Linked DNA regions of Homo sapiens. The protein of the gene in region 3 interacts with the protein of the main gene of each other region in a pairwise test. Each region holds a gene or a part of one and is shown on either strand. Other genes may lie near its edges. The genes, in order: HPCAL4, SHC3, CEACAM6 and MSS51.

The links.
Region 1: the proteins of CEACAM6 (region 3) and HPCAL4 interact in binary tests that used the Homo sapiens proteins (3 or more experiments, as listed by UniProt).
Region 2: the proteins of CEACAM6 (region 3) and SHC3 interact in binary tests that used the Homo sapiens proteins (3 or more experiments, as listed by UniProt).
Region 4: the proteins of CEACAM6 (region 3) and MSS51 interact in binary tests that used the Homo sapiens proteins (3 or more experiments, as listed by UniProt).

Annotation. Positions count from the first base shown.
Region 1 is NC_000001.11:39,681,417-39,688,444, reverse strand, and holds part of HPCAL4 (hippocalcin-like protein 4), read left to right. Parts: intron 1-3,833; 5' UTR 3,834-3,841; coding exon 3,842-4,003; intron 4,004-4,292; coding exon 4,293-4,508; intron 4,509-5,711; coding exon 5,712-5,909; 3' UTR 5,910-7,028. UniProt on the Homo sapiens protein: May be involved in the calcium-dependent regulation of rhodopsin phosphorylation.
Region 2 is NC_000009.12:89,035,802-89,042,829, forward strand, and holds part of SHC3 (SHC-transforming protein 3), read right to left. Parts: intron 6,384-7,028; coding exon 6,225-6,383; intron 2,488-6,224; coding exon 2,192-2,487; intron 1-2,191. UniProt on the Homo sapiens protein: Signaling adapter that couples activated growth factor receptors to signaling pathway in neurons. Involved in the signal transduction pathways of neurotrophin-activated Trk receptors in cortical neurons.
Region 3 is NC_000019.10:41,765,507-41,772,534, reverse strand, and holds the end of CEACAM6 (cell adhesion molecule CEACAM6 preproprotein), read right to left. Parts: intron 6,353-7,028; coding exon 6,276-6,352; 3' UTR 6,236-6,275; intron 1,734-6,235; coding exon of another isoform or gene 1,717-1,733; 3' UTR 324-1,716; downstream 1-323. UniProt on the Homo sapiens protein: Cell surface glycoprotein that plays a role in cell adhesion and tumor progression. Intercellular adhesion occurs in a calcium- and fibronectin-independent manner.
Region 4 is NC_000010.11:73,430,537-73,437,391, forward strand, and holds the start of MSS51 (putative protein MSS51 homolog, mitochondrial), read right to left. Parts: upstream 3,026-6,855; 5' UTR 2,977-3,025; exon of another isoform or gene 1-2,976.

The DNA.
Region 1 (7,028 bases), on a different chromosome or scaffold from region 3:
CAAAATAAGAGACAACAGGACTTGATGGCAAGTTAGACCTAGGGCAAAGGGAAGGGAAAAAATGAAGGTAACTAAGATTGTGTTCCCCACACCCCGGGGATGAGGGAGAGAAGGAAGGGGCAACAGAGACAGTCTGACCATCTCTGGTTGGGAGCGAGTCTGGCTGTAGACTTGCTGTCTCAGAGGTGCTGGTGGACACCCCTAGGGTGGCTATCTCCTGGGTGTCAGAGATTGTGGCCCCAGATGGTTCCACTGCGGCCAAAAGGGAGATCAGAGCTCTGATTTTCCCAGAGGGCAGATGTGGGTGGAGAAGGTCTGTGCTGAACAAGAGTAGCCATGATTTGGAGACGGTGGCCCAGGCAGGTAGCACGGATTCAGCCTGAGTGCTCATCTGGGCCCTCCCACTGACCTGCTGTGTAACCCTGAGCCAGTTTTCTCCTATCTCTCAATTTCCATTTTCACTGAAATAAGGGGATGATCTTAAAGGGCACGGCCAGTTTTGACCTTCTTTTCTTAATTTTTTATTTACTTATTTTTTTTTTGAGACAGGGTCTTGCTCTGTTGCCCAGGCTCGAGTGCAGTGGCTCAATCACGGCTCACTGCAGCCTCAACCTCCTGGGCTCAAGTGATCCTCCCACCTCAGCTTCTGAGCAGCTGGGACTACAGGCACATGCTACCATGTCTGGCTAATTTTTAAATTTTATGTAGAAACAGGGTTTCCTTATCTTGCCCAGGCTCAGCTTTGACCTTCTGATGATCTAGAGGGAATGAGGAGAAATAAAGGAGGAGGCATAGTCTGGGTCTGAGACCCAATAAAAGCAGGGAACAGGAAGGACCCTAGGAGACAGAGAATTGTGGAGAAGGCAGCACAGAGCAGGGAGGAGAAAAGGGGTATAAGGTGAGAGCCACACAGACACTGTGACACACACAGAGAGACGTGTGCACTCTGACAGATTTGCAGCCTCAGACATTGACATGCTCCCACACACAGACCCAGCCCCTCATGCTGACTCTCAGGCACATCCTACGGAAGACAGCTGGAGAGGCTGTGCCTCCCCCCATCAGACATCTCTGCCTGACTTCTCCAGCTTCCTTGACTATACCCTGAGCCTTGAGAGTCCTTTGGATTTGGGAGAGGGGTGAGGCCTGCCTCCTTTTGCCTATGGGTGTTCCAGAGGCATCCTTGCTCTGGCCTCAGTGTAGCCATTTTCCGCCCAGCCTCAGGTTCCTGAAGATGGCATGCTCCCCCTCCCTGGCTTTTCCTGAGGGCATACAATTCCTCATCCTCTGGGAGTGGGGAAGGATGTTGCTACCTGCACTGCTCCTTGGTCTTCCTTATGGCCCAGTGGAGGAATCTGAGGCCCAGAGAGGATCTGTAACTAGCCTGAGGTCAGCCCAGCAAAGGGGAGTGGGAAGGAATGGACCAACCTCAGATTTGCTATTTAGTGTTTTCCCAGTTGTAAGAATTAGAAGCCCACTGGCAGACATCGGGCTATGGGAGTGGAATTCCTTCTGCCAGCCCAAGGGCTTCCTTTTCCAGAGTATCTTGAGGACAGGCTACCTGGGGTGGGAGCCTGACCCTCTTCCAAAGAGACTCTAGGCAGGTCAGAGGCACCTCCCAAGCCATGTCCTGGGAAACCCAGACTCTGCAGGGACATTCCTCCCAGGGAGGTCAGAGAGGAGGGTCCACTCTGCCTTCAAGGTCTGGCCACACTTCCTGAGGAGGGCCTGTACCTCTTCAAACACTTCCCCTGGCACAGCCCACTTACGGGCTCACATTCCCACTGGGGAATAACTCTTGATCCTTCCCAAACCTGCTTCTCAGCAACAACACTTCTATCCACTGAGGCTCAAATCTGAGCCTCTGCCTCAACTCCTCTGTTCCTCTTACTCCCACATCCAATCAACTGCAAAGTCCTGCCAGTGCCCTTCTTAACGTCTCAGCCCATCCACGTCTCTCCACGACCCTTACTCTGGCAGCATTGTCTCTCACCTGAACCGTGTAGCAGGCCCCTCCCTGCTCTACCTACCTGCCCCCACCAAAGGTCATCTTGCATGCTGTGGCCAAAGGAAAAATTCTTTTTTTTCTTTTTTGAGACAGGGCCTTTCTTTATCGCCCAGGCTGTAGTACAGTGGTGCCATCTCAGCTCACTGCAACCCCTGCCTCCCAGGCTCAAGTGATCCTCCCATCTTAGCCTCCCAAGTATCTGGGACTACAGGCATGCACCACCACACTCAGTGAATTTTTTTTTTTTTTTTTTTTTGAGACGGAGTCTCACTCTGTCGCCCAGGCTGGAGTGCAGTGGAGCGATCTCGGCTCACCGCAAGCTCCGCCTCTGGGGTTGATGCCATTCTCCTGCCTCAGCCTCCCAAGTAGCTGGGACTACTGGCGCCCGCCACCATGCCTGGCTAATTTTTTGTATTTTTAGTAGAGATGGGGTTTCACTGTGTTAGCCAGGATGGTCTTGATCTCCTGACCTCGTGATCCACCTGCCTCAGCCTCTCAAAGTGCTGGGATTACAGGCGTGAGCCACTGCGCCCGGCCAATATATTTTTTTTTTTTTTGAGGTGGAGTCTCACTGTGTCACCCAGGTTGGAGTGCAGTGGCGCGATCTCAGCTCACTGCATGCTCTCCCTCCTGGGTTGACGCCATTCTCCTGCCTCAGCCTCCCGAGTAGCTGGGACTACAGGCGCCTGCCACGACGCCCAGCTAATTTTTTTGTATTTGTAGTAGAGACAGGGTTTCACCGTGTTAGCCAGGATGGTCTTGATCACCTGACTTCGTGATCCACCCACCTTGGCCTCCCAAAGTGCTGGGATTACAGGTGTGAGCCACCGTGCCCGGCCGCGCCCAGCCAAATTTTTAAATTTTTTGTAGAGACTAGGTGTCACTGTATTGCCTAGGCTGGTCTCAAACTCCTGGCCTCAAGCTGTCCTCTCATCTCAGCCTCCCAAGGTACTGGGATTATAGGCATGAAATACGGTGCCCAGCCTGGAAAAATTTTAAAACACATACCTTTTCTTGGGTCCCCAGTGACTCGTTCAAGACTGGGTATATCATAAGCATTCTGTAAATATTGTGGAATGAATGCAATCTTCCCAGCCCTTGTTTTAAAAAATCCCAGGAGCGTCTGTTCCCTCCAATTTCTTGGCATGGATTGGAGGCCCTTTGTAACCAACCATCTGCCTCTTTGACCCAGTTACAAGTTATTGAAGGTTGGCTCATGTCTGCTTCATCTCCATCACTGGCACAGGGCCTAGCACACAGTCAGTCTCAATAAATGCTCAGGGAATGAATGGATTAATGAAAAGCCAAATGTCAGTAGAGGATTTCTATTTGTATAGAGGAAAGAGGGAGAGAAGCTCCCTGCTGGGGTGGCCCAAGAAAGCCTTGAGGAAGAAATTGGGAGACAGTGCCAAGGGGACACACAAGGAACCTACCTTGGGTCCCTTCTCAGGACAGAAGCCTGCCAAGGAGGGTGGGGGCTGACTTCAGAAAGCCCTAAATGGCAAGGAGAGGAGTCAAGGCCTTAGTCTGTGGGCAGGGGAGCCATGAAAGGTGTGAGCAGGAGGGGAGAGGATGAAGACTGTGGCGTGCTGCACGGTCAGTGAGGAGGAGAGCTGAGACCTGGAAGGCGGGAGACCCCCGGGGCTAGGAGAAGAAACCTACCTGAATGCAGGTGTTGTGAGGGGAGAGGAGGCCCCATTATGGGGGAGTGTCATGAGGGGAAGGAACCTGCAACCCCGCCCTGTGTGTGGCAGGGGAGGGGGCAGCTGTGGCTGAGGCAGGGCCTTTCCCTGGACCCAGTCGGAGGAATCCCTCTGTCCCACAGGCCCCGCCATGGGGAAGACCAACAGCAAGCTGGCCCCCGAGGTGCTGGAGGACCTTGTTCAGAACACTGAGTTCAGCGAGCAGGAGCTGAAGCAGTGGTACAAGGGCTTCCTGAAGGACTGCCCCAGCGGCATCCTCAACCTGGAGGAGTTTCAGCAGCTCTACATCAAGGTGGGCGGCCGGCACCTGGTGTGAGGGAGCCAAGTACCCGGGTTGGGGGAGGCGAGGAACCGGGGGTGAGGGAGGCAGGGCACCCTGGGATGAGAAGAGGCGAGGCACCCGGGGTGGGAGGGGAGGCGAGGCACCCGGGGTGCGGGGGAGGTGAGGCACCCGGGGTGGCGGGGGCAAGGCACCCGGGGTGGGAGGAGGCGAGGCACCCGGGGTGCAGGGGAGGTTCCCTGAGATGGGGGCGGGGTGGGCGGGGCTGTCGCTGCGCCCCAACCCACCGCACCCCCCTCAGTTCTTCCCCTACGGCGACGCCTCCAAGTTCGCGCAGCACGCTTTCCGCACCTTCGACAAGAACGGCGACGGCACCATCGACTTCCGGGAGTTCATCTGCGCCCTGTCGGTCACCTCCCGCGGCAGCTTCGAGCAGAAGCTCAACTGGGCCTTTGAGATGTACGACCTGGACGGCGACGGGCGCATCACGCGCCTGGAGATGCTGGAGATCATCGAGGTGCGGGGCCGCGCGGGCGCTGCTGTTCCCGAGGCCAGCGCTTCGCCATCCCCGCCCCTGCCTCCGCGCTGCTCTCGGGCTTCGGGGCCTCCCTGCTGCTCCCCAGCCTGCGATCCCGCCTCCTACCACCCCGCTACAGGCCCGGGCTAAATGCTTTACCCGACACTCGACGGGGCGGAGGGGTTGGTTACTGTCCCAAACCCCATTTGGCAGAGGAGGAAACGGCCGGGTTCCTGATTCCAATCCAGGGAGTCTGACCTCATAGCTGATGTTTTCAACTCATTCTGTCAACAGGCAGGGATTGAGCGCCTGCCAGTTCTTGCTTTCATGGGGCATTCCTTCTAGTGAGAAATTTTTTTAAAAAATAAATGAATGAAGACATGCGGGGTCAGGCCGTAGGTGCTATGAGGAAGATACACTAAGCAAAGTGCAGGGAGAGCGCGTGATGGAGAAGTTACTTTATATAAGATGGAAAGTTAGCAGCAGCCTGAATGGGGTGAGGCCTTTACTGCAAGATGCCTGGGGGAAAGCGTTCCATGCTGAGGGGCAATTAAGGCAGGTCGGCCTTTCTCTGCAGAGTTCAAGGAGGGGCCAGGAGGCCCGGTGGTGGGAGAGCCATGAGAGGGAGAGAGTGATAGGAAGGTGGTCATACGGGGAGCCAGGAGCCCCATCAGTAAGGTCTCCACGGAGTTGGGCTTCTGGCATGTTTCATCCACATAAATATTATTTAGTCTAAATAAAAAATTAGTTGAGGGCTGGGCGTGGTGGCTCACGCCTGTAATCCTAGCACTTTGGGAGGGTGAGGCCGGTGGATTACCTGAGGTAATGAGTTCGAGACCAACCCGGTCAACATGGTGAAACCCCGTCTCTACTAAAAATACAAAAATTAGCGGGACGTGTTGGTGCATGCCTGTAATCCCAGCTACTCAGGAGGCTGAAGCAGGAAAATCACTTGAACCCAGGAGGCAGAGGTTGCAGTAAGCCGAGATCGCGCCATTGCACTCCATCCTGGGCAACAAGATCGAAACTCTGTTTCAAAAAAAAAAAGAGTTGCTCATTAAATATCCAGTCTTAATGACCACATATACCTTCCAGTATCCTCACCAACCCCCAGTGTTCTCCCTGCCAGATCCCTTTCCTTCACCCGCTGCTTCTCGGGGCCCCTTGTGGGTGTTCACACCTCCCTCCTCCTTCCCTCACCAGGCAATCTACAAGATGGTGGGCACCGTGATCATGATGCGCATGAACCAGGACGGGCTCACGCCCCAGCAGCGTGTGGACAAGATCTTCAAGAAGATGGACCAGGATAAGGACGACCAGATTACATTGGAGGAGTTCAAGGAGGCAGCCAAGAGTGACCCATCCATTGTGTTGCTGCTGCAGTGTGACATGCAGAAGTAGAAGCTGGTGAGGGGCAGGGTCCCTGGCCAGAAGGGGCATGGCCACCTCCCAACCTGATGACCTCTCTGGCTGGCCTCCCAGGAGGAGGGACACTCCAGCCCCCCTCTCTGGCCCACCCAGTCCTCTGCCCAAGCCCTTCCTCCCCTCCATCAAGATCTTTGAGGGACCACCTCACCCTGCAAAAGAGACAGGTCCTCCAGTACCCTGTCTTCTAGCCCCACCTCCCACTTGGCCAGAACCAATGTCCATTGGGCATAGGGGAGTTGGCTTTTGCCCCAGGAGGTGAGGTTAAGGAGTTGGGGGCCTGGGGTTCTGGTTAGGAATTCTCTTGATCCTGGGATTATGCTTTATAGGATGTGGTCCCACAGGCCTGTCACAGGGCCAAATTGGGTCTGTCCATTCCTGAGGCTCCAGATCCCATAAAGGGGGTCTCTTCCCCATCCCTTCTACTCTACCTGGCCCTTCCAGCCCCAGCCTTTGGAGCGTTCATTCAGTCCTTTCTTCAGCTAATGATTACTGAGCACCTGTTTGGTGCTAAGGATATGGTCATTTACAAGACACATCTTGTGCCCTCTGGAAGCTCATAGGGTTGTGAGGCAAACTTCCAGCCGTCAGGGTCTCAGCTAAGCAGAAGGTGCTGGAAGGCTGGTTAGTCTGGGAGGAGCTATTTCATCTTCCAGCTCAGCTCCACACAAAGCTGCAGAAGGACGAAATGAAAAGCATTTGGAAGTTTAGGAGCCACGTGAGTGAAAGTTTTAAGAAAAATGAAATTTATGTCATACTTATTTTTTTAGTACCCTTTAAAGGAGCTACAGTCATTTTATTATTTCAGGAGGTTAAAATATACTCTATATTACTTGGTTTCTTATAAAATGATTAAATGAATAGAGAAAATATTAATTTTCAAGGGGAAAAAACCTGAGAAGAAAGGGAGAAAAGACCATGAAATTTACCAGATAACACTTTTTAAGACTAAGTCCTGAGCTGCCACTCTCAGCAGTTTTTGCTGCTTCAGCTCTTCCTTTTTATTACCTTTTTCAATTCAACAAGCAACTTTCTGCTACATACTTACTCCGGTTGGGTGCTGACTTCAGGGACAGGAAAAAGCAAGGTTTGCAA
Region 2 (7,028 bases), on a different chromosome or scaffold from region 3:
CAAAAACAAGCAAAAAACAAACAAACAAAATATATATATATATATATAGATGTGTGTGTGTGTGTGTGTGTGTGTGTGTGTGTGTGTGTATTGGGTCTCTATCTCATTTCATATTCAAAAGTACCTTCAGTTGGAATTAAAGTCTACATGTGAAAGATAAAACTATAAAGCTAACAAAAGAAAATATATATTCAAATCCAGTATATTTGTGATTTGTGGGGGAGAAAAACTTTAAAAGTCAAAACCATCAAGCACAAAGGGGGAAACCTGATGGATTCGGATGCATCCCATGAAAGACTTCTATTTGATGAAGAGTATCACAGACAAAATTATCAGATAGATGAAAAAAGCAAGAGAATACATGTGAAAATTCTGTTGCTGAAAACCTCAACAAGAAAGCCCAATCTGAAAGTCAAAAGAAAAACATGGAGAAAAGATAAGAACATAAAATTTACAGGAAGAATCTGCTAATTTACTAATGAAGTGCAACCAAAGAATTACAAATCAAACAATGAGGTATTCCCTTTCTCCCTACTCCCACAAACTAGCAAACCTAGAGACTCTCTCAAGGAAGAGCAAGGATGTTGCTGGTGTGCGCCTTAGTAGCTCAGCCATTCTGAAAGCAAATGCAAGCCCTAGGGAAATTCAATGTACGTGTACCCTGTGACCAAAACGCCACTCTTGGCTCCTGTCCCAGAGATACCGTCCCCGGGTACAGAGAAAAACATGCGTGAGAGTTTGTAGCAGCTTAGTCATCCTTCTCAAGAGAGCTCAGTAAGTGACATGTGGACTGCATACGTGACGGGCCCCAGGCAGCCCACCACAGTAATGATCTGATAAACAGAAACCACCATGGACAGATCTCAACAACATATACAGTGGTGGAAAAGGAAGAAACAAAATGGGATTTGTGGAACAATAACATGTTTGCAAACTTCTTTTTTCTTTTTTTGAAACAGAGTCTTTCTCCATCACCCAGGCTGGAGTGGAGTAGTTGCGATCACAGTTCAGGGCAGCCTTGACCTACGGGGCTCAAGCAATCCTCCCACCTCTGCCTCCTGAGTAGCTGGGACTACAGGCAGTCGCCACCATGCCTGGCTAATTTGCAAATTTCTAAAAGGCACAAACACAAAATATGTTTTCTCAGAAGTACATATATGTTAAAAAAAAAAAAAAAGAAGGTGGATTGGAAGGAGATAGGTTACATTCATGAGGAAGTGGCTGTCTCCGCGGAAGGGAAAGAGGAACTAGCTACTGGCTGGAAGTGGGAAGTGGCTGCTTCTGCAGAGACAGAAAGGGGAATTGTTCAGAGTGCCAGGAGCTGGGGTATTCAGGCAACTGAGTCTTGGCACCTGAGGTAATAAACTGTCTTGGGTAACACCCCCACCCCCGACACATGCAGTTTAATTGTGTTCCAGTCCAACTGAGACAAAGGCTTCATCCCTCCCTGTCAATCAGAAAATGCAATGTTCTTAACTCCTATTAAATAACTCTACCCTGCTTTGTTGTTTTCACTGGATAAAAGGTTTTAAACAATCCTGGAATTTCACTCAATGGTTAGGTTGATTTAACTGCATTTATTAAACTTAGCAATTCTTGGACTATGCCCCAGGTAAAGATGAATGTCTTTCTTGACGGGAAGATGAAAAATTCAGCCAAACCTACGGGATTATTCAGATACAGCTGTAGTGCCAGGGATGGCCAACATCAGTAGGAGTTACTTCTCTAAACGGGAAAACAAGAGACTTAGCAATGGGGGTTTCATTTACTGATCATCACATTTTACAGCCTTAGAACAAAATCCTCAGTGATTCAACTTTTCGAGATAAGCATTCAAGATAAATATTAAAAGCCTAGGAGCCTGTACTTCCTTGTCTACTAGAAATGTGTTTGTAAGGAAAATGCTCTCAGTTTCTGTATTTATTTACTTTAAAGGACATAAAAGTCAAGGCTTTCAGCCTAGGCCATAATTCTAAAAGTTTTAAAACTTGTGTGGGGCCCTGACCACTGGCTCCTGGCTCCTGGCTCTGGCCTGATGACAGGAGTTGTCTGTCCCTGCGTTCCCCTGGAGGACTCAGTAGGCACTTGTGGATAGAGGTGGGAATGTGGAGGGCATTTGACAAAGTGGAGACTGTTTAAGGCAGGTCTGCACCCACTGGCAGGTCCGGCCCCACCCCCACTGGGTGCTCACCGTGCCTTCTGGGTCCACGAGCAGCAGGTGCTTGGCCTGGCCATTGTGCATGCCCGTGAGGACAAAGGAGCCCGGGTTGGTGGTGCTCTTCCTGACCAGGAAGTCTCCGTCTTTCTCCAGCAGCCCCTCTGCCTCCTTCCTGCTCATCTCTCCTTGGTACCAAGTCTCGGCTTGCAGTTCCTCCAGCATCTTGGCATCTGGGGCTCTAGGTGACACAGGGCTGATGCACTCCACGGAGGCTGCCTTGCTTAACACGGGCCCCAAGGGCTGGTTCTTGAGAGCATCTTCAAAAGGTTCTGTCATCAACAATATTGACCAGCAACAAGTCAATCCCAAGAAGAGCAAATGATAAAAAAAAAAAAAAAAAAATACAGTGAGAGAGATGGAAATGCAAAGGCAACTCCTCCAGAAGGGGAAAACAAAAACCAATGGAGACAACTAACTGGCTGGTAATATAACAAGAGCCATCATAACAAGCATTGAAAAGCACAGCCCAAATTTTGGCATGACTTTCTGATGAGTCTGCTTTCCCAAGACAGCTGGGAGTTGTGCTATGTGCCAAGGAGTCAAGCACACCCTTTGTCTAGCTAGCTGGAATGACTTCATTTTTGCATGCTGCAAGAGGCCATGAATATCACATGCCACGTACTTTCTCTGGAACTTCAGCCAGCCTCTTTAACAAATTCTGAACAAAAATCTGCCAATACCAAAGGGAAAGACAAGCTACAAAGCTTTGATTTTATGCAAAACCTGAGCCCAATCCACCAAAGGTTTATTTCAAAATCTTTGCATCAGGCAAATTTTTAAAAGAGAAAGCTGACGGGTGTTGGGTTCCTCTTGTGTGACTTGCCCCAGGCTAGGAGCTCCACCTTCCCTTAACCTTCACTTGTTTCCCTGTGGAACGAGGCTCTCACATGAGTGCCTGAGACCATACTTGGTTTCATCCCCTTCAGAGCACACTTCTCAGTGCAAGGCATGTGTGAATGGTGAGACTGCTGCTCTAACAAGAAATACCAGCAGCAAAAGAAGTAGCCAGGCATGTCTAACTAAATCCCGATGTTCGATTTTCACATAAGGTAGTGTGTATGAAAGGACTCTGAAAAATGCACAGTGCTATGCAAGTGGAAGGTAGTGCGATGGTTATTTCAGACTACGCTGTCTACCCATAAGCATACACATACATACAACATAAGCAGCACAAGAACAGGAGTGGTTCTTTCCTGAGCATAACTACACCCTCAGAGCCCAGCATTGCTCCTAGCACACAGTTCATTCAGTATAGTCAACAGATGCTGTAAAATAAGCCAAACTTGTTCGATGTTAGTACAGCGTGGGCAGAAGTGAGGTGAGTAAATGAAACTAAAATTAGCTCTTTTTGATGCTTATTAATCTTTGACAGATTTGGAGATAAAAATAAGTTAGAACCATTGGCAAAAATTATGTCTGTGGAAGTTCTTTTTCATCTGACTTTTTTCCTGATTACCTGGAATTGTCATTTGTTTTATACTGTTTCTACATCATTACCACCTTTGCTATCATCTACATCATCAACATCGTCAGCATCATCCCCAACATCGCCACCATCCCCACATTCACTTTTATTGGCACCACCACCACCATCAGCATCACCGCCATCGTCGCCATCGTCATCACCATTATCACCATCATCCCCATTGTTACCATCATAACCATCATCATCACCATCATTGTCACCACCATCACTGTCACTACCAGCAACAGCAGCAGCAGCAATAGCATCACCACCATCAACACTATCATCACTATCCCCTCACCATTATCACCACCACCATTACCATCAGCATCATCAGGATCATCACCATTATCACCATCATCCCCATTGTCATCATCATCATCATCACCATCATTGTCACCAGCATAACCATCATCATCACCATCACTGTCACCAGCAGCAACAGGAGCGGCAGCAGTAACAGCAGCAGCAGTAGCATCACCACCATCAGCACCATCAGCACTATCACCATCACCATTGCCACCACCACCACCACCACCATCGGCATCACCACCATCTCACCACCATTATCACCATCACCACCACCACCTTTGCCACCAGCACCATCATCAGCATCATCACCACCATCATCACCACCACCAGCACCATCAGCAGCAGCATCACCACCATCATCATCACCATCATCATCACTATCAACACCACCACCATCAGCAGCATCATCACCATCATCATCATCACCACCACCATCACCACCACCACCACCATCAAAATTACCATCAGCAGCAGCACCATCATCACCACCATCATCACATCAGCACCGCTATATTTAGATCTACTGGTTCAAAATAAAGAACACAGAGTGCTGGCTTTATTTAGTTCCATACTTTTCAATAGGCACCAGCCTTTCTAAGGCTCTTTTCACATCCTGTTTCCCCTCCTTAGGTTTTGAAAGCAGGAGGAGAAATTAACTGGTGGGAAAAGGGTAGCTCTGGTTCTCATTTTTTCATCCCAAACACCAGCCAATCTAACTTTCCTTAGGGTCCGTGTCCAGGAGTCATTGGTAAATTGACTATATTAAACAGTAAAAATGGTCTAACCAGACATGGAACTATTAAACTGCAGTTTGGAGGTACTATAACAACTCCAGCAAAAGCTTGGAGAGCCACCACTGTGCTTTGCATCTTGAAAAAGTGGCTTCACATTTCTCAAGCTGTTTTCACATTTTTAAAAATAAAGGCACTGGCGGGACTGAATTAGGTGATCTAGCATTGAAGGTGGCTTCAAGCATTAAGATTCTACAGTTCTTGCTTAGATTATTTTTGTTAAGTCAAAATGGGGGTCCAGTGTGTCTGGGAAGTCAAATTTGCTGGAGAGAAACAGTGTTGTTTTCATGAGGCTGCCTAATTATAAAGGCACTTAACACTGTCCTCACTCATACAAAATACCACAAATCACAGATATTGGACCAGCAAGGCTGCCTTTCACAAATGATAAAGTTAGTTAACTTCTAGGATTCTTCGTTTCCTTCTCTGTAAAATAAAGATAACAGTAGTTATCGTAATACCTACCTGTAAAAATTTAAAAATAAGTGTTTAGCACATGGTAGAAAATCATTCAGAACTAGTCTCCATTCCCTCCCTCTTCAGCCTATAAAATTCTCGAGGAATATGAAAAGCAAATTTAGCTCTTGTGAGCTTGTGATGCTCTTTCAAAATTTTTTAACAAAAATTTTCACTTTCATTAATCAGTTCATGAACGATTTAATTTCCTCAGTCTATATGACAAACAGAAAGTCTGTGGTACACATCCCACTATAATGCTATCTGCAATAGATTCCTATTACTCTCCTTATCCTGTTTAGTTTTCATAACTGAGGAGCATGTACCACTACCTGGTAATAGATACCTCCACGAGGTAGAGACTTTGCTGGTTTTGTTTTCCTGTATATCTCCATCAAGTAGAATAGTATTTGACAAATGGTAAGTGTTCAGTAAATATTTGGAGTGAGGTAAAAGGTGAGCAAGAGAGAAAAAAGGAGAGAAAAAAATGAGAGCACAAGTGGGAGGAGAGGAGAAAGAGAGAGAAAACCCTCATAAGAGAGAGGTGTGTTGCAATTTCTTGCCTATATGTTAAATGTTGGTCTGCTTCATAGACCTAGAGATCCGTGGAAACACGGGCCATGCCATTTCATCTTTGCATCCTTAGCAACTAATACAGTAGCTGGCACATAATAGCCAATTACTATTTAAATGAATAAATAAACATTTGTGTATGTATATTGTCTCAATACATTTGCAGATCTTCAAGAGGAACGTCAATTCCAAAAAGAGGGGGAAATTGCTCTGTCTCTTGACTACAGAGAGGGCTATAATCCTAAAGCCTTAAACAAACCCAATCATCACCCAGAAAAGTACAGCTAATCATCACCATTAACCAAAACCCTACTATCAGAAAATTCAGTAATTACACAGATTTCAAATAAAAGGCAGGATAAAAAGCAACCTCAAAAGAAAAGAAAACCAGAGACAAACAGAAACCCACTCATGTCAAAGAGGTCTTTCCTTGGGCTGCTCTCAGCACTGCTGACCGCAGCCGGCCAGGCCTGTGGTGGGATCTGCTGAGTGTTGACGTAGGTGGGTGCTTCTCCCGTGGGGGCCACGTGCAGTTTCCCTTCTGGCGTGCTGTAGATGTCCGAGGACCCTGCAACAAGAAAGTGAGCCCCTTTTCTTTTACGATGGTGACACTATTCAAGCCACCCAGCCTTTCACAAAGAAGCTCTTCTGCCTGCAAATGGGAAACCTCCTCCTTCGGATTCCTATGGGTGATATTCTCCTCTTCTGAGCTTGTCACCACACACTGCTGTGACCCAGCTAGGATGTTTTCCAGTCCTTCATATCAGCATGGGGTCTGCCAGCCAATGTCAGGGTGGACACCTTGATGGCTCCACTGTGATGGCCTTAGCAAAAATTTTGGCCCTTGCTGCCCCAAGACCGCAGGAGCCTGGCAGGCAGAACATGCCTGACCTCCTCTCCTTGACAAATGCTCCAAGATCAAATAACTGAGCAGAAGGACCACAAGCCTTATATTAATTGCTCTTGTTTTCTTTTTAAATATAAGCAAATGCTTTATAAATTAACTTCATTCAAGCAATACAATAGAAGCTCTGTACCTCCTAAGGAACTGAGAGAGACTCCTTCCTTATAAAATAGGGCTGCAGTTACTGCCCCTGGGTCTGTGAAGGAAGCCCAGGGTGGGTGTGCAAGTGAAGAGCCCCCTCTGCTGAGGCAGTGATGCTGCCTCGATGTGACTTCACAGCTAGCCAATGGGTGTGCTGAGGCTAGGCCA
Region 3 (7,028 bases):
AAAGCAAATTTTTGTTGTGGGTGATGTTTATGAAAGTTACTTGTGTTAGGCAGAATAATGACCTCCTAAAAATGTCCACATCCTAATCCCTGGAACATGTGCATGTTACATTATTTGGCAAAAATACTTTGCAAATAAGTAAAGTTAAGGATCTTGAGATGGGAGGTTATTCTGGATAATCTGGGCGAGCTCAGTGTATTCAGAAGGGCCCTTGTAAGTGAAAGAGGAAGGCAGGAGGGTCGGAGTGAGAATGACGCCGCCTGAGAGACTCCACTGGCCGTGGCTGGCTGTGAACCCACATCAAGAGACAGAATTACAACAAATTTAGTTATAGAGCTAATTGGCTTTTATTTGTGATTTATGAATTAAAGCAGCACCACTCTACAAGTACAGTGATAGCTCCCCCTGGGCAATACAATACAAGAACAGTGGGTTTTGTCAAATTGGAACAAGGAAACAGAACCACAGAAATAAATACATTGGTTAACATCAGATTAGTTCAGGTTACTTTTTTGTAAAAGTTAAAGTAGAGGGGACTTCTGTATTATGCTAACTCAAGTAGACTGGAATCTCCTGTGTTCTTTTTTTTTTTAAATTGGTTTTAATTTTTTTTAATTGGATCTATCTTCTTCCTTAACATTTCAGTTGGAGTATGTAGCATTTAGCACCACTGGCTCAATGCGCTCACCTAGGTGAGAGTGTGACCAAATCTTAAAGCATTAGTGCTATTATCAGTTACCACCATTTGGGGCTTTTATCCTTCATGGGTTATGATGTTCTCCTGATGACACATTTCTCTGAGTTTTGTAATTCCAGCCAAAGAGAGACCATTCACTATTTGATGGCTGGCTGCATGCAGACATTTAAAGCTTTTAGAGAATACACTACACCAGGGAGTATGACTACTAGTATGACTATTAGGAGGGTAATACCAAGAGTTGGACTACGCACCTTAGGCAAGATACAAACCAACTAAAATAGAATAAAGAATGAGTCAGATGAGTGTAGCCATTTTAACCAAGCAGCACATTTGTTAATTTCTACAACTTAGTCTCAGCGATACCCATTGTATTTAGCCATGTTCAACAACAAGTGTCAGAAACTGCACAGACTCCTCCCTGTTCAGCTGGTAGGGAGCAATTCTATTATTTGGCATTGCATGGCTGGGTTGAATTAAAACAGGGAGTGAGAACAGGTGAGTCTAGAAGTCCAACTCTGAAAAGGACCACTGTACATTTGAACACACGGCTGTGTTAAAGATGCTGCTAATGTCAGTCACTGGGTGCACTAAAGGATCTCTTATTTTATGTAAAACGTTGGGATTGACAAGATAGATCTGACACTCTGTTAAGTTACCCTCTGAAGCTACTTCTTGTGAAATACTAATGACAGCATCATCCTGCCAAGCGAAAGAGGCAGGCATAAGCAAGGACAAATTAAAAGGGGGTAAGAGCCTTATCATGATGAGGAGTCTTGTTTTGACATCTTGGGAAAAGCTGTCCATAGTGTGAAGTCGTCAATTTCTCACCATGGTTTGCAGTTTGACTGTCTCTAGTTAGGTGAAGTCTCTGAGTGGCACACACCTCAGGCCTGAGGGTTTTCCCTTTAAATTTTCATTGAGTTGTCCATCTCCAGCATATAGGGCTTCAGGAGCAGAGCAGACCTTGTTTTTAGTGGTTCCATGGGATAAAATGGGATTGGAGGAGCTAGAAGAATTCAGGGTCTGGTCCAATCTATAGGTGGATAATGAAAATAAAAAACAATAAGCAGAGCTGTGATGTCATAACAGGTGTACTATAGTTTTTTTCAACATAATTTTTCTCTTCATAGGCATCTTTATTTCTACCAAAGATAATCCCAGTAAGACATATTTGTTTTCCAAATAAGTTTAGTCTCATCGAACTTGGCCTCATTCTTTATATAAGTGCAACAAGAGTAGCAGGTGACCACATAGTCTTTTTTTTTTCCTTTTGAGACAGAGTCTTGCCCTGTTGCCCAGGTTGGAGTGCAGCTCACTGCAACCTCCACCTCCCAAGTTCAAGCGATTCTCCTTGAATAGGAGTATAGGCCTATGTATAGCCCTATGTATGCACATGAATAGTATAGGCCCATGTACGCACATGAATAGTATAGGCCTATGTATGCACTCCCAGGCTGGAGCGCAGCTCACTGCAGCCTCTACCTCCCAGGTTTAAGTGATTCTCCTGCCTCAGCCTCCCGAGTAACTGGGATTACAGGAGCCCGCCACCACACCTAGCTTTTTTTTTTTTTTTTTTTTTGTATTTTTAGCAGAGACGAGGTTTTGCCATGTTGGCCAGGCTGGTCTTGAACTCCTGATCTCATGATTCACCCACCTCGGCCTCCCAAAGTGCTGGGATTATCGACGTGAGCTACTGTGCCCAGCCTGGGGTCTTTTCAAGTTTGTTTTACAGGAAGTTTTTATAAGGAATCTCAGATTAAACTTTTAGAAACCTCTTGACATGAGGAAGCCAAACCAAGGCCGACTTCAGACTTTGCCAGCAGTGCCTATGGGTTCATCTATGTATATTCCCAAATATAACATCCCAATCAAAGCCTGGGTAATATAACCAGTGTTTTCAAATGTATCCTGTTATAAAGGGAGCAGATTTTTATTGAGCAAATAACTATACTATTATATTTATTATATAATATTAATATTAATTAACAATTACAATTAGTCGTTAAATAATAATTATTAATTTATTAATAAATATTAATAAATTATTAAATAATGATCATCAAATAATTGTTTATCAATAATAATTATTTTATAACAATTAATATTAATAACTATATTTTTTGTGCAAATAACGATATTATTATAAACATATAAATATTCATGAATAATTTCCGAATTCTGGAGCAGTCAGGTAGGGAGAAAATATAGATGTTTCAATTTTTGTTCGCAAAATTGTTGAAGCTCTAGATAGCTTAAAAGAAAAAATGTTTCCTGAAATCTGGGAAACAAAACAAAGAATCCACAAAATTTCAAATAAAAAATCATAAAAATATTATTTTCATTATTATCTTTTAGTCTCATGAAATGAATTCTCTGCTTGCTCTTGGTTGGCAGTTTCATGAAGCTATCAGTTTGTTAAAATTTTGGAAATTCTTAAATAGTCTAATGGTATGATTTTAATGTTATCAGAAACTTGTATTCAAGAGTACATGTCGGAGTATTTTCTGTAAATATCCTCAATGAAGAAGCAATTTTGGATGGTAGCTGATTGCAAATGCTTTAAGGAAGGAAGAATCAAAATAATTGTCGGGGCTGGGCGCGGTGGTTCATGCCTGTAATCCGAGCACTTTGGGAGGCTGAGGCGGGTGGATCACCTGAAGTCAGGAGTTCGAGACCAGCCTTATCACCATGGAGAAACCCCGTCTCTACTAAAAATACAAAATTAGCCGGGCATGGTGACGCATGCCTGTAATCCCAGCTGTGCAGGGGGCTGAGGCAGGAGAATCGCTTGAACCCAGGAGGCAGAGGTTGCGGTGAGCCGAAATCACGCCATTGCACTTCAGCCTGGGCAACTAGTGAAACTCCATCTCAAAACAAAAACAAAAACAAAAAACAACCCCCCCACCAAACAAAACAAAACAAAAAACAATTGTCAGTGAATGACAAAGATTGAAAATGAGTATGGTTAAACATCTGATGAGAGTTCATTATGATAAGAATGCATCTCCCAGGTGAGGGGCGCCTCTGCCCGGCCGCCCCTACTGGGAAGTGAGGAGCCCCTCTGCCCGGCCAGCCGCCCCGTCCGGGAGGGAGGTGGGGGGGTCAGCCCCCCGCCCGGCCAGCCGCCCCGTCTGGGAGGTGAGGGGCGCCTCTGCCCGGCCGCCCCTACTGGGAAGTGAGGAGCCCCTCTGCCTGGCCACCACCCCGTCTGGGAGGTGTACCCAACAGCTCATTGAGAACGGGCCATGATGACAATGGCAGTTTTGTGGAATAGAAAAGGGGGAAAGGTGGGGAAAAGATTGAGAAATCGGATGGTTGCCGTGTCTGTGTAGAAAGAAGTAGACATGGGAGACTTTTCATTTTGTTCTGTACTAAGAAAAATTCTTCTGCCTTGGGATCCTGTTGAACTGTGACCTTACCCCCAAACTTGTGCTCTCTGAAACATGTGCTGTGTCCACTCAGGGTTAAATGGATTAAGGGCGGTACAAGATGTGCTTTGTTAAACAGATCCTTGAAGGCAGCATGCTCGTTAAGAGTCATCACCACTCCCTAATCTCAAGTACCCAGGGACACAAACACTGCGGAAGGCCGCAGGGTCCTCTGCCTAGGAAAACCAGAGACCTTTGTTCACTTGTTTCTTTGTTCACTTGTTTATCTGCTGACCTTCCCTCCACTATTGTCCTATGACCCTGCCAAATCCCCCTCTGCGAGAAACACCCAAGAATGATCAATAAAAAAAAATAAAAATAAATAAAAATAAAAATAAAAAAAGAATGCATCTCCCATAGACATTTAGTTACTTCTGTGGCATATGACATTATGGCTTATAATCTGTTAGATTTCTGGGAATCTCTTATAATTTTTGGAACACTCACATCAATAACATAACCATAAATATAACTTAGAGAAGGTTTAGCATCACTTATCATTTGACAGTGCTTCCCATATAATGTAACATATCAAATAAGGCGGCTTTTCCTTTTAGTTTCTGTTTCTCAGTTAGATTACTGAGTTCTTGGTGGAGCCCATTAATGAATTAGGCCAACAAAGTATAGGCCCATGTATGTTGAAAAAGCTCCAGAGGTAATTCTAATCCTCCTAGCTAAAAACCATGGGTTTAGCCCCAAGTCCTACCTATTAGAACAGGGATCCTCCATCGTGGCTACACATTAGTAGCGTCTGGAGAGGCTTAAAAATTACCAATGCCTGGGTCCCACTCCAGATCAGTAGATCAGAATTTATGGTTGGGGCTTGAGCATCCGTTTTTAAAAATGTTTCGGAGTGATTCCAATGTGTAGCTATATTTCCCATCAGATTTATCTGAATTTTTGTGGCATTCGCTCCTTTCTACTTTGGTATCATGATTATTTTTCAGGTCTTATCTCCTGTCTTGGGCTTTATGTTCCCTGGGGGTAGGGACCTTGCCTTCTTCATTTCTGTATCTGTTATGAACACATGAATTGATTGTCAGGAAAAGGTTCTCAGCCACATGCAGGATGTGTCCAAAGTTCACATATTAATACTACACAGTCTGTGTTCTCCATGAAATAAGAGGTTGCTTGTGATGAAGGGTGTGAGTAAGTCCACAGGGCAGGTAGTGGAGGGGAGATCACCCTGTTTTTAGGTGTAACATTGAAACTAAGAATTCTATGTGCATCCGGGGTAAAGGGGCAGGGATGTGTAGAGAGTCAGATTCTAATTAAGATGGAGGAATTATACTGGGAAGTAGAGGGAAAGAAAGTAAGAAGAATTAGTAAAGAGAAGAAATTTGAACTTAACTAGTAGGCCAGAGCAGGTTCCTTTGGCTTCTTTTTTTTTTTTTTTTTTTTGAGACGGAGTCTTGCACTGTCGCCCAGGCTGGAGTGCAGTGGCACGATCTCGGCTCACTGCAAGCTCCACCTCCCAGGTTCACGCCATTCTCCTGCCTCAGCCTCCCGAGTAGCTGGGACTACAGGTGCTCGCCACCATGCCTGAATAATTTTTTGTATTTTTACTAGAGACGGGGTTTCACTGTGTTATCCAGGATGGTCTGTATCTCCTGACCTCATGATCCGCCCACCTCGGCCTCCCAAGGGGCTGGGATTACAGGCATAAGCCACTGTGCCTGGCCCCCTTTGGCTCCTTAAGTAGGTGAGTGAACTAGATTTTAGGAAGGTAATGAGGCAGTCATATGCAAGAAGGATTCCAACCTTACAACAAGGGGTCAAGCAGGATGTTGAACAATTATTGAGGTTGATGGGAATGGAGAGACTGACAAAAGTGAGAGATGTTGAAAAAGGACGAAGAGGCTTTGACAATGTATTGACTCTAGGAAACAAATGAGCAGAGGCTGGGGATAATTATATCTAGGAGACAGTGGGGTACAGGGAGCATGAAGACCAGGGAAGAAGAGACCTGCAGGAATTAGTGCTGAGAAGCAGGAGTTTAGCGGTAGAAGGAGATCCAGTCCCAGATACAGGTGAAGAAGTTTTTTTCCTTTCCCAAGCATGGTGGTCAGCCCTGCAGGAAACATGGCAAGAGGAAAGGCGATCATACCTGCCAGTCTTCCTGAAATATCGAAAATACACCAGGGCTGCTATATCAGAGCCACCCTGGCCAGCACTCCAATCGTGATGCCGACGGTGGCCACAGCTGAGAGGACAGGAGCACTTCCTTGTGGGAAGAAGAGAGAAGGAATGAAGGTGATGTTATTCTACAGTGGGGTCCCCAAGAACTAGCTGTCAACATGAAGTAGGCTTGACTTGTTCCTTCAAGGAATACACTAGTTTTGTGGGAAAGTTGCAATTTTTTTTCTCTCTTACCACGTTTCTAGGTTGGTGATCAGTCTTCTGTCAATTTCATCCTGTTCTTTCTGCACTCAGACATTTTTGAAGGCTTTGAAAATTTGAGAAAGTCTGATTGCTATTTTTGCATGTCATTAGAACTTTCTATATTTTTATGTTTGCATCTTTTTCTCAGTGTCTCAATTGTGGCAGCCATGAATAAGAGCCTGTTGGAGCTCTATGGCAGGGACTTGATGGACAGAAGGCCCAGGCTAGTGCATTCTGAATTTACTATGTTCTTTGCACAGAGAACTCACTTCCCATGGGCTCCCACCAGGGGAAAGAAAGCAAGCCCAGGTCTGTGAGACCCTGCTTCACTCTCATGGGTGAGGGGTTCAAGGACTCCCCATCGGTCTTGGGGAAACTCAGAACTGCACTGCTATGTAAAACTTCCCTCCTTCTCTTTCTCCTTCTCAGGAATGAGATCTGCATCGTGGTCTGAGGGCTCTCTTAGGCTCTCCTGTCACTGCTGCTCCACCTTCCCTCATGGCTGTTTTACCCAGTGA
Region 4 (6,855 bases), on a different chromosome or scaffold from region 3:
GGAAAATGCAAATCAGAACCACAGTGAGATATTACTTCATACCCACTAGTATGGCTATTATAAAAAAAAAAAACAGAAAATGACAAGTGTTGATGAGGATATGGAGTAATTTGAACCCTCGTACACTGCAGGTGAGAATGTAAAATGGTGCCACCACCATAGAAAACAGTACGGCAGTTCCCCAAAAAGTTAACATAATATTACTATATAACCAGAAATTTCATTCTTAGGTATGTGCCCAAAATATTTAAAAACAGATACTCAAACAAATACTTATATGTGAATGTTCATAGCAGCACTATTCGCAACAGCTAAAAGGTAGAAACAACCCAAAGGTCCATCAATGGATAAATGGATAAACAAATTGGGATATAAATATACATATGAAGATGTATATTATTCAGCTATAAAAAGAAATGAAATACTGATACACGCTACAATGTAGAGGAACTTCAAAAAACATTATACTAAGTGAAGAAAGCCAGACACAAAATGTTGTATACATGTTGTATGATGCCATTTCTATGAAATATCCAGAATAGGTAAACCCAGAGACAGAAAGCAGATTGGTAGTTGCTAAGGGCTGGGTGGAAGGGAAAATGGGGAGTAACTGCTTAATGGTTATGGGGTCTTCTTTTGGGGTGATAAAAATGTTTTGGAACAAGACAAAATTGATGGTTGAACAATACCGTGAATACACTAAATGCCATTTAATTGCTCACTTTAAAATTATTAATTTTATGTTATATGATTTTCACTTCGATTAAAAAAGAAAGGAAGGAAGGTATTCATAGAGATTGAGAGGCTAAAAAGTTATTAATCCCCAGATTGTCTTCAGGTACAGAGAAATAACAGAGGATTAAAAACGCTGGCAGTGTGAATGAGGAAACTGTTAAAGTTCAAACCAGGGATCATGTTTTGTTACAAAAATGATCTGACATTTGATCCTTCTAGATCAGATCTGTTAGGAAAAACCTCAGAATCATCATGCAGCTGAGGTGTATGCAGGTGGCAAAAATAAACAAAAAGCTCCCAGAATTATCCAGCTCATATCCATATCTTACAACATGACTCTTAAAAACCTGTCCTCAGGTTAATGGAGGAACAAATTTGTATTTTCCTTTGTACTTTCTATCTCCTCATCCTTATGTTTCCATCCACCCTCTTAATGTCTCCCCTTATCCCATGGGTGAATGGATGGTTTCAGTCCACAGAACAGAAATAGTCAAGCTCATCTGTATACCATATCCTATATATTACCTTCAATGAAGAAATTGGACCTAATGATATTAGATTATCTTAGGGTTTAAGGGTCATGTCCTTTTACCAAAAGAGTAAATGGAATTGCCCTTCACACTTTAGGGCCCAATTTCCAACAACTAACCTCATTCTGTCCTCCACTTTTAATCACCTCACATTCTCATTGCATTTTCAGAATCACTGCCATTCTACAAAAAGCATTTATCTACTCTACCCACCTGCCTCAGGCAAGATAACATTTTCTTTTTCTTTCTTTCTTTGAGACAGAGTCTCACTCTGTCACCCAGGCTGGAGTGCAGTGGTGCGATCTTGGCTCACTGCAACCTCCACCTCCCGGGTTCAAGTGATTCTCCTGCCTCAGCCTCCTGAGTAGCTGGGATTACAGGCTCGCGCCACCATGCCCAGCTAATTTTTGTATTTTTAGTAGAGATGGGGTTTCACCATGTTGGTCAGGCTGGTCTCGAACTCCTGACCTCGTGATCCACCCACCTCGACCTCCCAAAGTGCTGGGATTACAGGCATGAGCCACGGCGCCCGGCCAAGACACCACTTTCTTAAACCTTGAAAGAATGACTTTTTTTTTTTTAAATAGGTATGGAAGGAAAGTGTGATTTGAGACAACTCTAGGGTCTTAAATCCCAGAATTTATAATAGATATCTCCCTGAAGTTAAAACATAAGCCTTTTTGCTGCAATGGAAGCAAGCCACTTAAGGTCAGAAAGGTACTGCTTTACTTTTCCGCATTTCCAAGGTGAGGTCTTCCTCTAAAGGAAGATTAGCTCTTGGCAATCTGGGAGTTGGCTGAACTGGTCAGAAAGCAAAAGGATCACACAGTTTGAGGAAGAGGAGTGGTGGTAAAAATCCCTAATGTCACAGTCTCCTCTGTGTCTAGAGCACAATGTTCATGATACAAATGAGTTAGCTTTCTGGCAGAAAAGAAAGAAGGTGGGTGAGAAGCCAGGTCTTTGATCTGCATCTATATACATCATCAGGTTCATGTTTGAGTTTATATACCCCAGGCCCAGACACAGCTTCCCTGGTTCTAAATCTCCTGTAAAGAGCCCCAGGCTACTCCCTGTTCACAGGTTATAAACTGAGAGAAACAAAGGAAAAAACAGGGGACTCACAGGAGAAGCTGGAAAGAATTGCAGTAAGCTCTTTGAACTTTCCAGAGTCTAGAATGCTCTCCACTTAGAAAGGGAATCCCTTTCATTTTTTTCTAGCCATCCCCAGTGACTTAGGCTCTAATTTAGTCCCAGTATAAGAGAGAGAACACCAACACCAAGAACTGGAGAGGAGACATGATCTTGATTGCCTAGAAAAACTTTTATCCTTCATGTCCAAATTCAAGACAAAATATTAATCTATTCCTAGACCTAGGTTTCCCATCTTCTTCTTTACCACCAAGAGTCCCAAGTTTCACCTAAACTACAGTCATATTTTCACTATCTCCAGATAAGGAGTGCTCATCTAATTTTCTGTAAGTCACCAAAAAATGCAAAACGTCTTTGGAGAGGTAGGGAGAAGGAAGACTGAAACTGGTCATTGGAGATCCTTATAAGGGGGTAGGAAAAGAGAAGGAGAAATACATTAAGGACACTGTAATTATGGCCACATTCAGCTGTTTAATCAGTGATTAACACTGCCTGGGGTGATAAATACTTTACTCAATTATAAACTAAGCAAGCAGACAGGTTGACGGAAAAAAAAACTTACCCTGCTAAGTCCTCAGCTTCCTTCCTTCTCTCTTTCCTCCAAGTGAAATGAGTGCTTGATCTCTTCAGATCTAGGTTGTGGCTTACTTGCAGCTGTCCCTTCATATCACTTTCCTTTGCAAACTGCTGAAATGCTGAGTCTCAGTGATTAAGTGTGCCCTGCCAACCAGACAGACAAGGCTGAATTCTCCCTAATGAGGCAAAGAGGGATCTGTCCCCCTGCCTGAGGGCTTCTCTCTAACCTTTGTTCTCTGCCAAGGGGGCTCAGGACTGTCAACACTCCCAAGTGTTAGCCAAGTAAAGGCCAGGCAGGCTGACAAAAAATGAAACCTGCTGCTTCCTAGACTTCTCTCACTCAAGGCAATATTTCTGTTCTCAGTTTACAGCTTCAGAAGAAAACCCTTTGGATTAGTGCAGAAGTCAATATTTGATTGGAAAGGGTAAGCACCTTTCCAACCAAGTGGGAGGAACCAGAGGACCCTCTGGAGTTCTGTTTGTTGATCTAGACACAGGATGAGTTCCCCCAGGCCTGGTGTCCTTTTTCAGCATAACAAACATTGTTCAAACAAAACTCAACAATGTCCAATCTTGGATTAAGTAGAAGGGAGAAAATAAATGGCCATTTAATGGTACAGAATGAAATCAGTTGTAGGGGAAACATGCAGAATTAACTTGTAAAATTCACTTTCCCTGAAAGAAGGGTAAGATAACTCTCTGAGTGAGAGAGTCATCAGGAGCACTTTACCTGTATTAAGAGAGGAATAAATGCTTCTGGGATATTAAACAAAACCAAAATACTAGTTAATGACTAAAAATACATACTATTTCTAGGAAAAGAAAATAGAAAAGAATCAGCTCAACCATTCTCTTATCCTCCTTGTAATTGCAGCTGATCCAGGAAATTCAATTCCACAGTCCTAGCTTCTTTCTACTTACAGCTAGCCTATCTGAAGTTGTTAGGGCAGTGGTCCTAAAAGACTGCAAGATCTTTCTTACCCTCAAAAAATTTTTTTAAAATTTTTAAATAAAAAAGTTCTGACTTTCTGCTTATATCTGACCCCAGCTCTCACTTACCTGCTTCTTTGAACATCATCAAACTGGGGAACAGAATCACTCGCAATGAGGTCCCGGAATGTGGCAAATCAAATCCACACAGGAACCCCAAACTGTAAAAAGTACAAACTACATGCAGGGAAGGTGGAAGAAAAGTGTTAAGGATTCAACCAAACACTGCATAACATTATGTAGAATAGCTGTGGATAAAGGAAAATCAGTTGCAATAGGCAAAAACCCTAAATAAAATAGGGGTAATTCACTTTGTGCAAAAGTTTCAGGCCAACTTCAAATTTAACAGGCTTCAAAATTTATCTGAGAACCTCAAATGTTTTGAGTTCTGTTAATAATGGCTGAACTGCAGAAGATACAAGACATCAGAGATTGACTTTTCTAATTCAGAAGTTGTCAATGAATATAAAGGAGAATAGTAATATAGAAAAACTTTGATGTTGAATACTTATATTTTACTATCACTATGACTTGCTCTGGTAAACATTTAAAGTTACGAAGTCTGAACTTTTCACAATTTGTATTCATCATGAGTTGCATTTAAAAAATCTTAATAAATGGTATGCTGTGAAATGAATTATGAAGAAAGACTAGAAAGAGGTTCCTATTCAACATGTAGGAAGTGGTCTGTGAGGCACTATGTGATACTTTATCACTCTTCAGGTATTTTGCTTTTCCTGAGTTTGGTTCCTTTCTCTTATTTTCCTCTTAATTTTTACCATCAATCCATAGTTTTTTTGCTAATACTACTTAATGCTCACCCATGATTCCCACAAACACTATATAATGCTAGTTATGTACCTAAGGGCTAGGAAAGTTCCTGGCACCTAATATACTAGTTAAACTCTTACTTACTTTTTAATTTTTCTATTGGGTCTATTTTAGCCAGATAAACTCTTTACTGAATAGCTTTCATAAAACAACATCGACAACAATCTTTAAGGTATGCAACTTTCATAAACAACATAGACAACAATCTTTAAGGTATGCAATGCATAATAACTTTAGAGCCAACTCATGGACTGCTTTGTAAGTTAATATTTTGGCAAGCAGAGAGTTATAATAATTAACAATTTGTGGCCGGGTGCAGTGGCTGACGCCTGAAATCCCAGCACTTTGGGAGGCTGAGGTGGGCGGATCACGAGGTCAGGAGTTTGAGACCAGCCTGGCCAACATGGTGAAACCCCATCTCTACTAAAAATACAAAAATTAGCCAGGCGTGGTGGTGGGCACCTGTAGTCCCAGGTACTTGGGAGGCCGAGGCAGGAGAATTGCTTGAACCCAGGAGGCGGAGGTTGCAGTGAGCCAAGAGCATGCCACTGCATTCCAGCCTGGGTGACAGACAGAGATTCCGTCTCAAAAAAAAAAAAAAAAAAGCAAAAGAAAAAGAAAAAAGAAACAATTTGAGAAGTTCTGTTTGTTACCTGGAATTAGGCAAGCATGTGTGTGTGTGTGTGTGTGTGTGTGTGTGTGTGTGTGTGTGTGTGCGCTTGCCTAATATATTTACATATATTTTGTTTGTTTTTAAGGGATGGGGTCTCACTCTGTCACCCAGGCTGGAGTACAGTGGTACAATCATAGCTCAACACAGCCTGCAACCATGAGCTCCTAGGCTCAAGCAATCCTCTGTCTCAGCCTCCCAAAGTGTTTGGATTACAGGCATGAGCCACTGTGCCCTGCCTATATTTTGACTTAGTGTTTTATAATATATCTCATTGTAATTATTGTTGAGAACTATAATTCAAGTTATTGTATGATTATATAATTTTGAGCAATATCCTAATATCCCTCAATGTGCAAAATCCTATACTTATTGTGATTATGACAAAGAAGAAAGGAATGATAGGAAAATGCAATTATCACTAATATTTTTCTTATTGTTAGAACACCCAGTAAATTCCCAATACCACTATAACAAAATTCTAGACAATAACATATTTTCTTTCAATTAAAAGACAATAAACAGTGATCTTAAATATTAGACTTAGGAGGCCTACAGTAGGCATTCAAAGTCCTCTAGTGCTCAGTTACTAATGCTCATGTAAAACAAGTATATAACAAAAGTTTTTTTTAAGGCAAAATTTATAAAGAATTTAATTAATCAAATTACCATGAACTATCCACGAGATAATCTCCGGAGGACATCCCAGCTCTAGTAACAGGATTTTCTGATTTGCATCAAAAGGACAAATCAGATTGCATCTTCCAAATAAAACCCAACACAGAGATAGGAGCAGCGGCCCATGCATGGAATTTATTGTGTGCTACTGTTTATAAAATACTCGAATAGTCCTGCACATGCATAATATTTCCAACTTAGACAGGAGACCATACAGGGTGCACTTTCTGGCAAACAAAACAATAGATGGTTCCGCTGCCTGGAGCTCTGAGTTGTATTCCAGGGCATGAGGGAAGCAGGCCACCAAAGTAAAGGGAAATACCAAACTACAGTGGCAATCAATACAGGTCAATAATTGTGAAAAATTAGCACATGGTTCCATTTAGTTTAACCAAGCAGTTCAGTAACTATCAAAAGAAAGGTTTCAACATGCAGTCTTGACTTTTATGCTTCCACTAACATCTGAATGATTGAACAGAACCATTGCTTCTAGGCTGCATTGCTTAATCAAAAACACTTCCAGAACATTTTAAAATTTCCTTTGCATTAAAACATAAAAATGATAGAAAGCCAGCAGCAAATCACCCTGGTGGCTCTCTAAGCAACTTGAGTACTCACAATAAACTAAAATTTCTCATAACATCTAGGTAACCTATACATGTCGTACCTGTACATCATAGGTCTATATATTAAATA